2 linked regions of the Homo sapiens genome follow. The protein of the gene in region 1 purifies or fractionates together with the protein of each later gene. This does not show direct contact. Each region holds a gene or a part of one and is shown on either strand. Other genes may lie near its edges.

Region 1 (7,023 bases):
GGGGCAGTATCTCCTCTATTATTGAGAATGTTTTGGGTCATGATCCTATGAGTATTGGAGTAAAAGAGCCCGCGGTTGCCTGTTAATTTCTTAAATCAGTAGAAGCACATAGGATTGGAATTTGGACTTTAGGTGTGCAGTTATAAAGCACTTGATTTTTATCCTTATATTTTTCTAAAGTTTTCCTCTTTCCGAGGGAGGACTAAGAGGACTTGAAAGTCCTTCCTCATGGCTCGCCTTCCCTAAGTTGCAGGTTCTGGAGTTCTGAATATAAAACTTAAAGTCATTTTAACAATGTAGGAGTTGCCCTACTTAAACATACTCTGCTGGGTTACTAGTACTTTCTCTCGAAGTGCTCACATCCAAGTCATATTAAGGGCGTCAGCGACTATGAAAAGATTTGATAAAACCCATTGTATTTAACTGACAAAAGTTTCAGCCCCTCCTTGGTCTGTTTCCTTAGTCTGCACGTGTTCCTTCTGCTTTGAACTTTCCCCTTTCTGTCCCTTCACTTCAATCCGTCCTTTGGGAAGCACTCCCTGGCCACTGTGTGCCTCATGGTTAGGAGCACAGGCTTTCCACTGGGACAGGTTTAGTTTGTTGCTGACTATGGAATCCAGAGCTTAATTCTCTGCACATTAATTTTCTTACTTGCAAAATGGGAGTAGTTAAGGATTGCACTGTGGTAATGTGGTAACCACAGTGATAACATAGATAACCTGTGAAAAGTACCTAGCAGTGCTCAGCACTAGGAAATGCTTAATAAATGGTAGCTACAAGTATCTCTGGGCAAATGTTATGACTGTTATTGAATTATATGCACTATGGCATATGTACCTTTATTAGATGTCTACTGTGTCCCAGACACTGCTCTGGTTCAGGGAGTATTGCAGTACAGGGCAAACAAAATTCCTGTTTGCCTGGAACCTGCATTCTAGGCCGGGCGTGGTGGCTCACGCCTGTAGTCCCAGCACTTTGGGAGGCCAAGGAGGGTGGATCACCTGAGGTCAGGAGTTCGAGACCAGCCTGGCCAACATGGCGAAACCCCGTCTCTACTAAAAATACAAAAATTAGCTGGGCATGGTGGCGGGCGCCTGTAATCCCAGCTACTGGGGAGTCTGAGGCGGGAGAATCGCTTGAACCCGGGAGGTGGAGGTTGCAGTGAGCCAAGCTTGCACCACTGTACTCCAGCCTGGGCGACAGAGTGAGACTCCATCTCACACAAAAAAAAAAAAAGGAACCTGCATTCTAAAAGCATGCTATGGTAATAATGGCTCACTTGTGTTATAATTTTTATCTTTTGTCATTTACTTTCCCCACTAGACTTTAAACTCTTTGGAGGCAGGGACAGCTGCCCTAACGCTGCCCTGTATAGAAGGTCCTCTGTCATTCTTTGGCAATGGAATGAGTAAGTGAACAAAAGATCCATGCGCTATAGATAGGGGAGTCTTTTGAAGTAGTTCAAAGATGGGGAAAGCTCCTGATACCATGTTTCTTTAACGTTGTGATGGTGGTCAGAGGAGAGAGGAACAGCTGCACTTCTGGGCATTGGAAGGGCAGAGCAAGATTTACGGGAGAATTTGGTTCTTGCCTGATTGATGGCAGCATTTTTCTTTTTACCTTCAAGAGAGTCTAGCAGTTGCTGGAGTGAGAAGCATACCGAAAGGCATAGAGTATTTTTCTTGGAAGTGACATTTGCTTGATGTTGGGTGGAGCAAAGCCCTGAGCTAAAATTTGGCACCCACGAGACCCACTAAGATAAAGCAAATGGAAGAAGTAATGGTACCTTGATTTGGTGGGGAGGACTTTTTTTTCCAGTCTGCACAGTGGGTTCACAGCGGCCCCATCCTCAGAGGGCTGTCATGAGGTTGGAGGGAGCCTGGTCCACTGAAGTCCTCAACAAATGGTTGAGGTGGTTCGTTGTCACTGAACACCCATTCAAGTCTTCCAAAAATAATGTTGGCCTCCTAAGTAGAAAAGGATTCTTAGAAACGATTTCAACAGCTACTGCCCAGTGATGGTCCAAGTGGGGCTTGTCCTCTTGTTTAAAATGAGTGATGTTCAAAGTGTCTGGGAGTAGGTGAGGAACTGTGGGTGTGCGGGAAGGAGAAGGCTGGTTGGGTCGGGTTGAATTGTGTGGATTTAGAGGCTATGAGTTGGGGAGTGAAGACAAAGTTTTGTCTCTGGAGCCTTGTTTTCTATTCCTTGACTGCTTTGCATACATTGCAAAGCAGGCTTGGTTTCTGGTGCACAGCTTTGCAGGTATCATTGCTGCTGTGCAGCTCTTGGAATTCAGCTGCAGAGGCCTAGGCATTAGCCAGTGGTGGGGAGCCTGGGAACTGGAGGCTGAGGCTGCAGCAGCCTCTAGGAGCACTGGTGCTGCAGACATTTTTGTCTGGGCCAAAGCTGCCAAAGTCAGTGAGGATCTTTTCCTTGAAGGTATCTCTGAGACATTGCCCTGCCTTGTAGTAGGCCTTCTAAGAGCCGTGACCCAATCAATAGGACATTAGAGGAAAATCAGAACCAATTCCAAATTTGGCTTTGGACTGCTTTGTTCCTTCCCTTCTATTTCCCTTACTGTGAGTTAGACCTGCCAGACCAACACAGGCCCTGCCATGGGCTTCCTGTTAGCCCAGCAGGGCTGGGCGGACCCAAACTCGTCCCCCAAAGAGCGCTGTGCACATTGAATGGGTCTCAGAGCAAAGTTTTTCATTAGAGTTTTATGGAAGCCCAGGCCTTACTGCCTGTTCTGCTGTATATATGTGAGAGATAACAGAGTGTACTAACCCACCGATTACTGGGTTAGCAAATCTGGAGAGAATATTCTTTGCTCTTATCTTCTAAGATCCTCACTGTGTGGGTCTGCTGGGTTTCACCTTCTGCTGAGCTGCTGTCAGCAGTCAGCCTGAAGCTGTCTAGATTTCCTGCAGAATTCTGTTATCCCAGACCTGCAAGTCATCGTGAGGAAGCCATGCTCTTAAATAGCAATTAATCATTTTCCTTCCCAGTTTGTCTCCATCAAAGTAATTTATCAATGATTTTTTTTTTTTAATGATGGGCAATAAGGACCATTTTTTTTTTCTCTAGAGAAAGTGGATCAGTAGCCATACAAATATACTGGTAATTTATGGTCATTCCTTTTAGAGGGGATTAGTAAGTATCCCTTTTATTAATAATCAAAAGCAGTTTATTTCAAATGCTATTTGATAAAGACAGCAAATAATAAAATTATGCTACATCTGTGTGGATGTAGTTGTAGGTCAGGCAGGAGGTTGGGGGGAGAGTCAGAGAGTCAGGCCTCTTCCCTCGGGCGTGGGGCATCCAATTGAGCTGGCACCTGGAACTCCACCGCCTTTGGGAAGCTTGTGGCTGTCTAGCAATTTCAAACTCTTCTTTCTGTCCAGGAAGCAGATGTTTTGCTTTCATTTTCCAACTTTAGAGCTTATTTTTAGAATAAATGTTTATTTTCCCACAGAATTCAATTTACTTTTTTTAACCTTCATTTTGGTTATATAAGTAATATTTGTTTATGGTAGAAAAATCATAAACTTATGGATGGGCTAAAAGGAAAAAAAAATCACCTATAATCTCATTACCCAGAGACCATAGTTAATATTTTGGATATAGTCTTTCAGTTTTTGAGAAGTATATCTATCTATCTATCTATCTATCTATCTATTCTTTAAAAAGAGTACAGACCATACTCTGTATACTGTTTTGTAACCTGTTTTTTTTTCCTTTATATTACATCTTGGATATGATCCCATGTCAATAACTGTTAATCCCCAGCATAATTTTTGAAGGCTATACAGTATTCCACTGTAGTTAACTCATTTTCTTTTGCTACTCACTTAGCAAATATTTCTCATGAATTTAGCTTCTTAGGATGAAGTCTTAGAAATGTAATTGCTGGGTCAAAGAATATGTGAATTTTTAAGACTTTGAATGTGTATATTATACACACATACATACACACTACTTTCACTGCAGCCTTGAACTTCTGTGCTCAAGCGATCCTCCATCCTCAGTCTCCCTAAGTGCTGGGATTACAGGTGTGCAACACCATACCTGACCCCACCTCTTTTATTTTCTAGTGAGGCTGAACTTTTCTTTGTTTTTTTTTTTTGAGATGGAGTCTCACTCTGTCACCCAGCCTGGAGTGCGGTGGCATGATCTCGGCTTACTGCAAGCTCTGCCTCCCGGATTCATGCCATTCTCCTGCCTCAGCCTCCCAAGTAGCTGGGACTACAGGCACCTGCCACCACACCTGGCTAATTTTTTTTTTTTTTTGAATTTTTAGTGGAGACAGGGTTTCACCGTGTTAGCCAGGATGGTCTCGGTCTCCTGACCTCGTGATCTGCCCGCCTCAGCCTCCCAAAGTGCTGGGATTACAGGTGTAAGCCACTGCGCCTGGCCTTGAGGCTGAACATTTTTAAAGTTCTCTTGACATTAGTTGCCTTTTCTAAATTGCCTGCATTTGTCTTTGCCCCATTTTTCTAAAGTCATGTTCACAATTGTTTTCTTATTGATGTTAAGGTAATTTTTAATATATTAAGCATATGTATGCTTTGTCATATGCCACACACATCTCCCTAGAGGTTTTAAAAATTTTTGTTGTATGTCTCTTTTTTCTTTTGGCCGTGTATAAATTTAACATTTTGTGATCTTAAGTCTATCTATTTGTGGTTTGTTCTTCAGTGTTATGTCTGGGGATACTTTGCCCAGATGCAGATTATATAAATATGCATGCATTTTTATTACTATTTATAATAATTTCATTTTACCTTCAGATCTCTAGTGTGTCAGTCATTGATTTTGATGTATGACATGGCTTAGGTATAATACTTACGCTTTTTAAAATTGATTACCCTGCTATTGATTAGTGTAATTCATACCCACCATATTGAAGTATCATCATCATTGTGTACTAAAAAATTTCATCTACTTTTATCTTTTTCTGTGATTTCTAGTTTGTTTTTTATTGTCTGTTGGTTCTGGCAGGAATTTAAGACGGGCTCAGCTACCCAGATAAGCAGTGGTGGGTTAATCCTTATCATGAGACCCCGTCCATTGGGTGGGAGTGGAGTCAGGCTGAACTTCTCAGCTCAGCTTCAACCCGGGCCATTCCTGGGTCTTTAGAGCACAACAGCCTTTGCCTAAGGATCATGCTGTGTCTTAACCACAGTTAACCTCCAAATTGCTCCATTATGAAAGAAAGTTGATCAGTTTTCTTGACTGTGCTCATTTGTTTATTGTCTCTCAGTATTACTTTTTAAAAGTGTATATTAAGATGGAAAAAAATGGGCATTTTTACAATATTGAGTATAATGCGAATTCTTCTCATCTGGGAATAGGGCATGTTTATTCCAATCTATTTATAATCCTATAAAGTAGTTTTTGTCCATTTTGCTCCTGTACAATTTTGCTTTTACTTATAGGTAATTTGTCAGTGTTGTTACTGTAGCTTCAGTGATTTGAATCTTTTATTAAATTATATATTTTTTCTTACTCTTTGTTGCTGGAATGTAGCGAAGTTGTTGATTTTTATGTAATTATCTTAACAGCCGCCTTCATGAACTATCTCATTATTTTTAAATACTTTTTTTAAAAAAATTGAGTCTGTGGGATTTTCCAGGGAGACAATTAGGTCTTCTGCAAATAATAATTTTGTATTTTCCTCTCTGGTGGTTTATACTTGTTTTATTTTCTCACCTAATTGCATTGTCTAGGACTTATAGAACAATGTTAAAATATCATGGCAATATGTGGGCATTCATGTCTTATTAACCTCAATTAAAATGCATGATGATTGGTTTGAGATATTTTGTTTTTTAATTATGTTACATATTGCATAATTTTATTTTACTTTGAGGTTTTCTTTGACATCAAAGTTAAATTTGATTTATCATGGCATTTGCAGATAATCACAATGTGTTTTTTTCTTTGATTTTGACATCACTCAATAATTTATTCCGTATATATTTATTGGACACTTTTATGTTCCAGGCATCATTGATACATCAATGATAGAGTCAGTACCCATGAGGAGCTTGTGTTTTGGATGTTTGAACCTCAATAGATTTTCTAATATTGAGCTCTCCTTGCCTTCCTGCAGTTAATCTTGACTATGGTGTGTTCATATTTTTCAATACTGCTTGATTTAATTTGTTATTTAGGATGTTGGCATTCAACATTCATAAATGAAAGCATTTGATTTTTTTCCCCCATATCTGTCATGTTTTGTTAATTGTGTAAAATGAGTTGTTCAATGTTCTTTTTGTTCCTATAGAATGGTAAGATGGAGAAGTACTCATTCTTTGAAGATAAAAACAACTTTCCAAGGGTGTTTTCTGGATGTAGTTCTTTGACAGTTTTCTGGATTTCTTGAATGGTTATTGGACTATTCATGTTGTCTATTTTTTCTTGAGTCAGTTTGAATAACATATTTGATAGAAAAGCATTCATTATACTATGATTTTAAAATTTAATAGAAAGTTTTTGAGTATATCATTGTATTTCTATTGTCATTCCTAATTTACAATTCTGTTTTTCCCTTTGACAAGTTTTGCCCCAGAGGAAGTCTCTCCCTACCCCGGTCAGTAATTAGATTTAAGCTATTTTCATTTGGATTTCTTTCTCATTAGCTTTTGATCAGCACATATGTTTTCTAGTAAATTCTGCTTTTCTCAGATCCTTTCCTCCTGATTTCCCTGAGTTTACTTTGTTCTTTTCCTGGTCTTTAGTCTTCCATGTTGTGTTAGGATAGGTTAAGCTCTGCTGTGATAACACATGAGCTCTGGAATTTCAGGGGCTTAACATAGCAAAAGCTTCCTTTAAGCTCATGTGAATGTGATGTGAGTCAGGAGGACTCCCATGGACAGCTCTCCTCCGTGTGTGATTCTGGAACCTAGTCTATCCATCTTCCCCTCCACCTCAAAATCTCAGTATGTGGTTTTCAGTCAGTGCTAAAGGTAAAAGAGAAAATAGAAGTGGTATACTGGCTCTTAGATGCCTGGGCCTGGA
Region 2 (7,443 bases), on another chromosome or scaffold:
GGGAGGCTGAGGCAGGAGAATCGCTTGAACCTGGGAGGCGGAGGTTGTGGTGAGCCGAGATCTCGCCACTGCATTCCAGCCTGGGTGACAAAGTGAGACTCCGTCTGAAAAAAAAAAAAAAAGAAAAAGAAAAAGAAAATTATTTCATAATCTGAAAACACCTGTGGCTGGGAAGCATGTGTCTGATTTTGAACTTAACCATCTTCTTCTTTCTTCTCCTTTTTTTTTTTTTTCCAGACAGGGTCTCATTCTGTGTACCAGGCTGGAGTGCAACGGTGCCATCTTGGTTCACTGCAACCTCTGCTTCCCAGGTTTAAGCGATCCTCCTAACTCAGTCTCCCAAGTAGCTAGGACTACAGGCACGCATCACCACAACTGGCTAATTTTTTTTTTTTTTTTTTTTGTATTTTTAATAGAGACAGTGTTTGGCCATGTTGGCCAGGCTGGTCTCAAACTCCTGACCTTAAGTGATCCTCCCACCTCAGCCTTCCAAAGTGATAGAATTACAGCCATGAGCCACACCCGGCCCAGTCACCATGCCTGCCCTAATTTTTTTTTTTTTTTTTTGACGAAGTCTTGCTCTGTTGCCCAGGTTGGAGTGCAGTGGCGTGATCTTGGCTCACCACAACCTCTGCCTCCAGGGTTCAAGCTATTCTCCTGCCTCACCCTCCCAAATAGCTGGGATTACAGGCACGCACCACCATGCCCAGCTGACTTTTGTATTTTTAGTAGAGACGGGGTTTCACTATGTTGGCCAGTCTGGTCTCGAACTCCTGATCTCGTGATCTGCCTGCTTCGGCCTCCCAGAGTGCTGGGATTACAGGCGTGAGCCACCGCGCCTGGCCAATGTTTATATTTTTTGTAGAGACAGGATTTTGCCGTATTGCCCACGCTGGTCTGGAACCAAAACGTTGGGATTACAGGCGTGAGCCTCCATGCCTGGCCGAGTCTCTGTTTCTTCTATGTAAAATGGGAGTAAGAATCATACCTAACTCACAACGTGGTTGGGAGAAGCAAATGAGTTAGTGTGTGTTAATGTATATGGGTGTGTGTGCGTGCGTGTACACATATGTATGTATAGATTTATGTATAGGTCTCTGCCTATATGGAGAGAGAGGAAGTGAGAAAGAGAGAAACTCAAGCAAGTGTAAGAGTACGAGTGGTATCTATTAGAAAATAATAAATAGTAACTGCAGTTGTTAATAGTCTTCTTCCTGGTGGGGCGAGGTGGCTCATGCCTCTAATCCCAGCACTTTGAGAGGCCAAGGCAGGTGGATCACCTGCGATCAGGAGTTTGAGACCAGCCTGACCAATTATGGTGAAACCCTATCTCTACTAAAAATACAAAAATTAGCCGGGCGTCGTGGCATGTGCCTGTAGTCCCAGCTACTCGGGAGGCTGAGACAGGAGAATCGCTTGAACCCAGGAGGCAGAGGTTGCAGTGAGCCGAGATTGCACCACTATACTCCAGCCTGGGCGACAGAGCAAGACTCCGTCTCAAAAGAAATAGTCTTCTTCCTGTCATCAGTCTCTACCAACGAAAGTTCATTCTGACAACAAATATTTACTGAGTTTCTGCTATGTGCCATAGACTGTGCTAGGAGTCACAGAAACATCACCCACTCTTCTCTATCAGTATATCTAAGATCCTCTGTGACCTTGCCAGCATTAAACAAGACTTTAAAATGGGGGTTCTCTGGCCGGGCGCGGTGGCTCATGTCTGTAGTGACAGCACTTTGGGAGGCAGAGGCGGGTGGATCACGAGGTCAGGAGATCGAGACTATCCTGGCTAGTACGGTGAAACCCCGTCTGTACTAAATGAAATGACAAACTGGTGGCGGGCGCCTGTAGTCCCAGCTACTCGGGAGGCTTAGGCAGGAGAATGGTGTGAACCCGGGAGGCAGAGCTTGCAGTGAGCAGAGATTGCCCCACTGCACTCCAGCCTGGGCGACAGAGCAAGACTCTGTCTCAAAAAAAGAAGAAAAAAGTGGGGGGGGGGGTGGTCTCTGCCAAAAACACAGGATGCTAAAATGATTTAAAAATGAGGGTTCTGGATTTGAATAGTGTAGGCTTTAATCCCAACTGTACCACTTCCTAGCTATGTGATTGTGGGAGTCTGTCTTTCTTTCTTTTCTTTTTTCTTTTTTTGAGATGGAGTCTCTCTCTGTTGCTCAGGCTGGAGTGCAGTGGCACGACCTCGGCTCACTGCAACCTTCGCCTCTAGGATTCAAGTGATTCTCCTGCCTCAGCCTCCTGAGTAGCTGGGATTACAGGCACGCGCCACCACGCCCGGCTAATTTTTGTATTTTTAGTAGAGACGGGGTTTCACCATGCTGGCCAGGCTGGTCTTGAACTCCCGACCTCAGGCGATCCACCCGCCCTTGGCCTCCCAAAGTGCTGGTATTACAGGCGTGAGCCACCGCGCCCGGCCGGGAGTGTTTCTTTTTCTTTTACTTTTTTTTTTTTTTTTTTTTTTGAGACGGAGTCTCGCTCTGTCGCCCAGGCTGGAGTGCAGTGACGCGATCTCGGCTCACTGCAAGCTGCGCCTCCCGGGTTCACGCCATTCTCCTGCCTCAGCCTCCCGAGTAGCTGGTTCTACAGGCGCCCACCATCACGCCCGGCTAATTTTTTTGTATTTTTAGTAGAGATGGGGTTTCACCGTGTTAGCCAGGTGGTCTCTATCTCCTGATCTCGTGATCCGCCCGCCTCTGCCTCCCAAAGTGCTGGGATTACAGGCGTGAGCCACCGCGCCCAGCCCGGGAGTATTTCTTAATTCACTAGTAGCACTTATCTCCCATGGTAAGTATTCAATAAATGTTAGATATTATTCAGTTTAATTAACCCAATGACCCTAACCAAGGTTGCAGCCTGAACCTGGGGAGCTGCAGATAGATGATCTCAAAGCTTTCTTCTAGTCCCAAAGTCTATGATTTTTTATATTCAGTAGAACAGCTGTGGTGGAGAGTTCAGGGGGAATGACCCACAATATTTTTAGGAGAAAGGCATAAAAGGCTTTGTGAGCGGTTTCACAAGGATAGGTTCTTACTCCTCTAAATGGGGAGAAATCTCCCTTGCGGAGAAATCACCAGCAATTAGAATACTACCTTTGTCTCTGGGAGTATTCAGGTATTCACAGACAAATTCGTACTCATGATGTGAGCAGAATTGGAAAAAAAAAAAAAAAAAAAAAAAAAAAACAAGCGACACATGGAGTGATAAACACTATAAATGCCAAATACATATATTCAGTCCTTACTGAGAGCGGGTGCTGTCTGGTTTTCACAGGAAAGACAGGCAGTGTTAAAAGGCTCAGACTCTGGTGTCAGGCAGATCTGGGTCTAATTCCCAATTTGCCAACTTATCAGGACCCCGGGGGCAAGTTGCTTTTAGCCTTTCTGCTTCAGCTTTCCTTTTCTGCAAAACACAGACAGCAATAGTACCTAGCTAAGAGACTGTACCCAATCCAGTGCGAATAAAAGTGAATTATTGTTAGTATCTGACAAATGGCACCCTATGGGTGACAAGTTTCCTTTGTCAGAAGGTGACACGTCTTCCCTTTCTGACTTGAGGTTTCACGGGTGGGGCCTGGTCTCTGCCTTAAGAAGATAGGCTTAGTGCCACCCTTGTCACCTTGGGAACTTCCTTAATAAAGAGGAGGGTCTCTCCTCCATCAGACCCGGGACTCCACAAGGCTGGAACTGCGTCTCTTCCTCAGAGGTGGGAGCAGCAGTGACTCCGCTAGGGTCAGATGGACCTAGTCGCTCCCATCACCCCGAGGGCACCCAGAGTGTGTGTGGCTGACTCCTCTCCAGGCTACTCAGCGTAGGCCCGATTCTCTTTCATTCTCTTCCTTAAGGCCCAGGAGACGTCAGTGAGGACTGTGCCACTTCAGCAGCCCCCCAGAGCAGGAAGGAGTGGGCTGAGGAGCCCCCCGGGGCCCTAGCCTGAGAGGTCCCAGAATTCGGGGGCTGAGAGGAAGTCTTAGGAGCTCTTAAGGGGCTGTGAGGGGACCTGGGGTTCAGTGGGCGAGCGTGTGGGCGGGTGTCCCAGAAGCGGTGTGAGGAGCGTTTTACCCGGTGGTGGGGTGGGAGGTGCGTCCGGGTAACTAATGGCAACCGGGCGGGGTGAGCCCGCTCTGCAGGAACTCCTCGACGGCGAAAAACTACGACTCCCAGGGTGCCCCAGGGCTTAGCCCAGCTTTCCCGCCCGCCCACTGGCTGCCGGTCCCGCAAGCGGCGAAGCCCATTGGCCACGGCGGTGCGGGGCTCCCCCACTAGCAGGTTAGTGGGCGCCGCCGGCAGCAGACGTTGACCGGGCGCGGGGGGGTAAGTGGGGGGGCCCGGCTAGCCATTCTGGAAGCGGCCGGGCGCAGTCTTCGTAGCGTACCCGCCGGCTGCGAGGCGCAGGGCGGAGGCGGAGACTGCGTGGCGCAGGCGCGTTGCTGGGCTTCTCCTGGGTCCCCAGACAGCTGGAGGAGATAAACAGAGGAGGAGGAGGGAGGGGAGTGCGTGTGTGAGAGCGCGCGAGGGAGTGTGAGTGTGTGTGAGCGCGGGTGTGAGGCGGTGCGCAGGGGCGGGCGGAGGCGCTGTCCGGCCCCGGCCAGGCGCCGGGCGGGGAGCATGGGAAGGGGCTAGAACTGCTCGAGCCCCCCAGCCCCCTCCCCGGGATCCGCGCCCCCCTTCCCGGGAGAGGGGCCGCCCCCCCCGGACGGACATGGGCTCCTGAAGTTGCGCCGCTGCCGGTCGGGGGAAGAGACCTGACAGGTACGGGTCACCGCCGCCCCCTGCCCTCCGCGGGCGCCGAGGCGGGGACCGGCTCCCGCAGCCCCGGTGAACGGGCCGCCCGCTCTGGGCCGGCTCCAGCCCTGCCGGCCTGGGGGCCTGAGCCTACCCGCCTCGGGGCCCCGGGTGTCCCGAGAGGGGCCAGGCCTCGCCGGGGCGGAGGGCAGAGTGGTCCGGGGGCGGGGTGGGGGCGGAGGGTTTGGTCGGGACGCGGGGGGAGGCTGTGGGAGTCCGGGGAGGCTCTGCGGAGGGAGAGGTGGAAGTCATTCCATCATGGGACTTTTTTGCGGAGTTTTTGTTTGACATCTGATCTGGCGCCGGAGTCAGGAAGAAGGGGCAGGTGTAAGTGCTGGGAGGGCAACGCCGACCTGACCTGCCCTCTTAGCTTCTCGCTCTCTCTCTTTCTGTTTTTCTCTCTCTCTTTCTGTGTGTGTGTGTGTGTGTGTGTGTGTGTGTGTGTGTGTGTGTCCACAGCAGATGCCTTCAGTGGCCCATCCTGGCACCAAACAACTCTGCCAAGGTGTTTCCACCAGGCGACTGTAGCACCCCGTATACAAAGGGCCTCTGCTTGGGAACGGGCTATTCAGTACCCACTTCAAAGGGTAAATAGGAAGTGAGGAGATAGAAGAGAGACTGCGAACCAGCAGGATCCACTTCTTGGACTGAAAGCCGCAGTGGGACGCCCCTTTGCCAGATTGGTTGACTTTGCTTGGTGGCTTGGGCTCTCTCTCCTCTGCGGGTGTACTCCCAGGGTTTCTAGAGGAGAGGTACAGGGGCCTGTAACTAATGTCTTAATAGCCGAATTTGACTGTTTTCCCCAGAGTTCTTTTCTTCTGTGACTTTCTTTAACCTCCTGAAGTACTGGTAGAGCAACGTTATAGTTTTTCTCTCAAGTTGGTGATTTTAGGAGCCTGGTAGGGTGGCTGAAGCTTCCCCATTCATTCCAAGGATGGGGTAGATGATCTGGGTAAAGTGGCAGTGAAGTCTTCCCTTTCTAACAAAGCCTGAAACCGTTTTGAGAAGAAACTATTTTGAGGGCAGCTTCTGACTCAAAGACGTTACGAAATCCCCACCTAGGACACCGGTATGCCCAGTGGTCCCTACTAAGCTTTTCTGTGTCTTTTAGAGTCGTTGAGTGGCCAGCTTCTGCTCACTGTACTGAAGGAACTACTTAATGCTATTTCTGTCTTGAGTTCTGGCTTATTCTTCCTTGTGATTCTTATATCTTTAGCGGGATTGAATTGAATTTTTGCTGTTGAGTGTAATAGCCAGATCCTCTGTAACAGACCAGGGAGTAACTAGTTGGGCTCCTTTGGGCCAAGTCTGAGACTTACTGAGGTTTCTTCATTGTAGGTTGTTGTATTTCGTTGGCAGGTGGGAAATGACCTTTTCCGTCATAGTTTGTGATCATGCTGCTTTAAGGCTGGAGTCCTGCTCTCCTTTCCTTTTTTGACCTATATGGGAGCACTTCTGTTCGAGTCTTATCTCAATTTGAAGGAACAGTGCTTTTGGATCAACTCTGCCGAATAATTGAGCAGTAGCCCATATTTCTGCCTGGGACACCTTCATTGAGGGTCACGAGGGAAAGAGAGAACACGTGTAAATATTATGATGATGATGTTAACAACTATTTACCAGTTTCATACAATTGACAGTTTTTTTTAGCCGGGAGGAGTTCAGTATTGACTCATTGGGCATCTTATGTAGGGTGTTTTTGCACACCTAGACTTTAGGATCTGGAAAGACAACTGAAAATCTTGAAGCCCACTGCCAAACATTTGTGGATCTTGGGCCAACTGCTAAGGAAGATCTAGACTATGACTTGGTCTTTAATTATTTTTATTTTTTTCTCCTTTATGTATGTATGTATTTATTTATTTATTTTTTGAGATGGAGTCTTGCTCTGTTGCCCAGGCTGAAGTGCAGTGGCGCGATCTCAGCTCACTGCAACCTCAGCCTCCTGGGTTCAAGCAATTCTCTGCTTCAGCCTCCCAAGTAGCTGGGATTGCAGGTGCCTGCCACCATGCCCAGCTAATTTTTGTATTTTTAGTAGAGATGGGGTTTCACCATCTTGGCCAGGCTGGTCTTGAACTCCTGACCTCGTGATCCACCGACCTCGGCCTCCCAGAGTGCTGGGATTACAGGTGTGAGCCACCGCACCTGGCCTCTCCTTTTATTTTTATTTTTTTGAGATGGGGTCTCACTCTGTTGCCTGGGCTGGTCTCAAACTCCTGAGCTCAAGGGATTCTCGTACCTCTGCCTTCCTAGTAGCTGGGACTACAGACACGGCCTCCGTGACCACTCTCTTCTCTCTTTTTAAAAATTAAGGAATGTTGCTGACATGTGCAGTTCTGAGTCTCAGAGAGGAAGTCAAACAGAACATGTAATCTGGTGATACTTGTGTTTTCTTTGGGTCACTGGTTTAGTTATCTATTCTGTTTCCTTTCTTCTTTCCACCTCACCTTTCCAGATGCTCCACTGTATCTTTAGGCTGCCATTGCAGATTGCTGGGCCCACAAAACCCTTAGGTTGTACTTTCTTAGCTGTCATCTCTTGAAAAGCCAAAGTTCTGGCAGTTGCTATTAGAAACCAGTTCCTGGCTGAGCGCGGTGGCTCACGCCTGTAATCCCAGCACTTTGGGAGGCTGAGGTGGGCAGATCAC

The links. The genes of interacting proteins can lie anywhere in the genome.
Region 2: the proteins of ARHGAP44 (region 1) and WDTC1 purify together in Homo sapiens (affinity purification with mass spectrometry; 2 studies listed by BioGRID and IntAct, with this or other methods). This does not show direct contact.

What each region holds. Positions count from the first base shown.
Region 1 is NC_000017.11:12,792,489-12,799,511, forward strand, and holds part of ARHGAP44 (rho GTPase-activating protein 44), read left to right. Parts: intron 1-7,023. UniProt on the Homo sapiens protein: GTPase-activating protein (GAP) that stimulates the GTPase activity of Rho-type GTPases. Thereby, controls Rho-type GTPases cycling between their active GTP-bound and inactive GDP-bound states. Acts as a GAP at least for CDC42 and RAC1.
Region 2 is NC_000001.11:27,230,189-27,237,631, forward strand, and holds the start of WDTC1 (WD and tetratricopeptide repeats protein 1), read left to right. Parts: upstream 1-4,443; 5' UTR 4,444-4,763; intron 4,764-5,008; exon of another isoform or gene 5,009-5,123; intron 5,124-7,443. UniProt on the Homo sapiens protein: May function as a substrate receptor for CUL4-DDB1 E3 ubiquitin-protein ligase complex.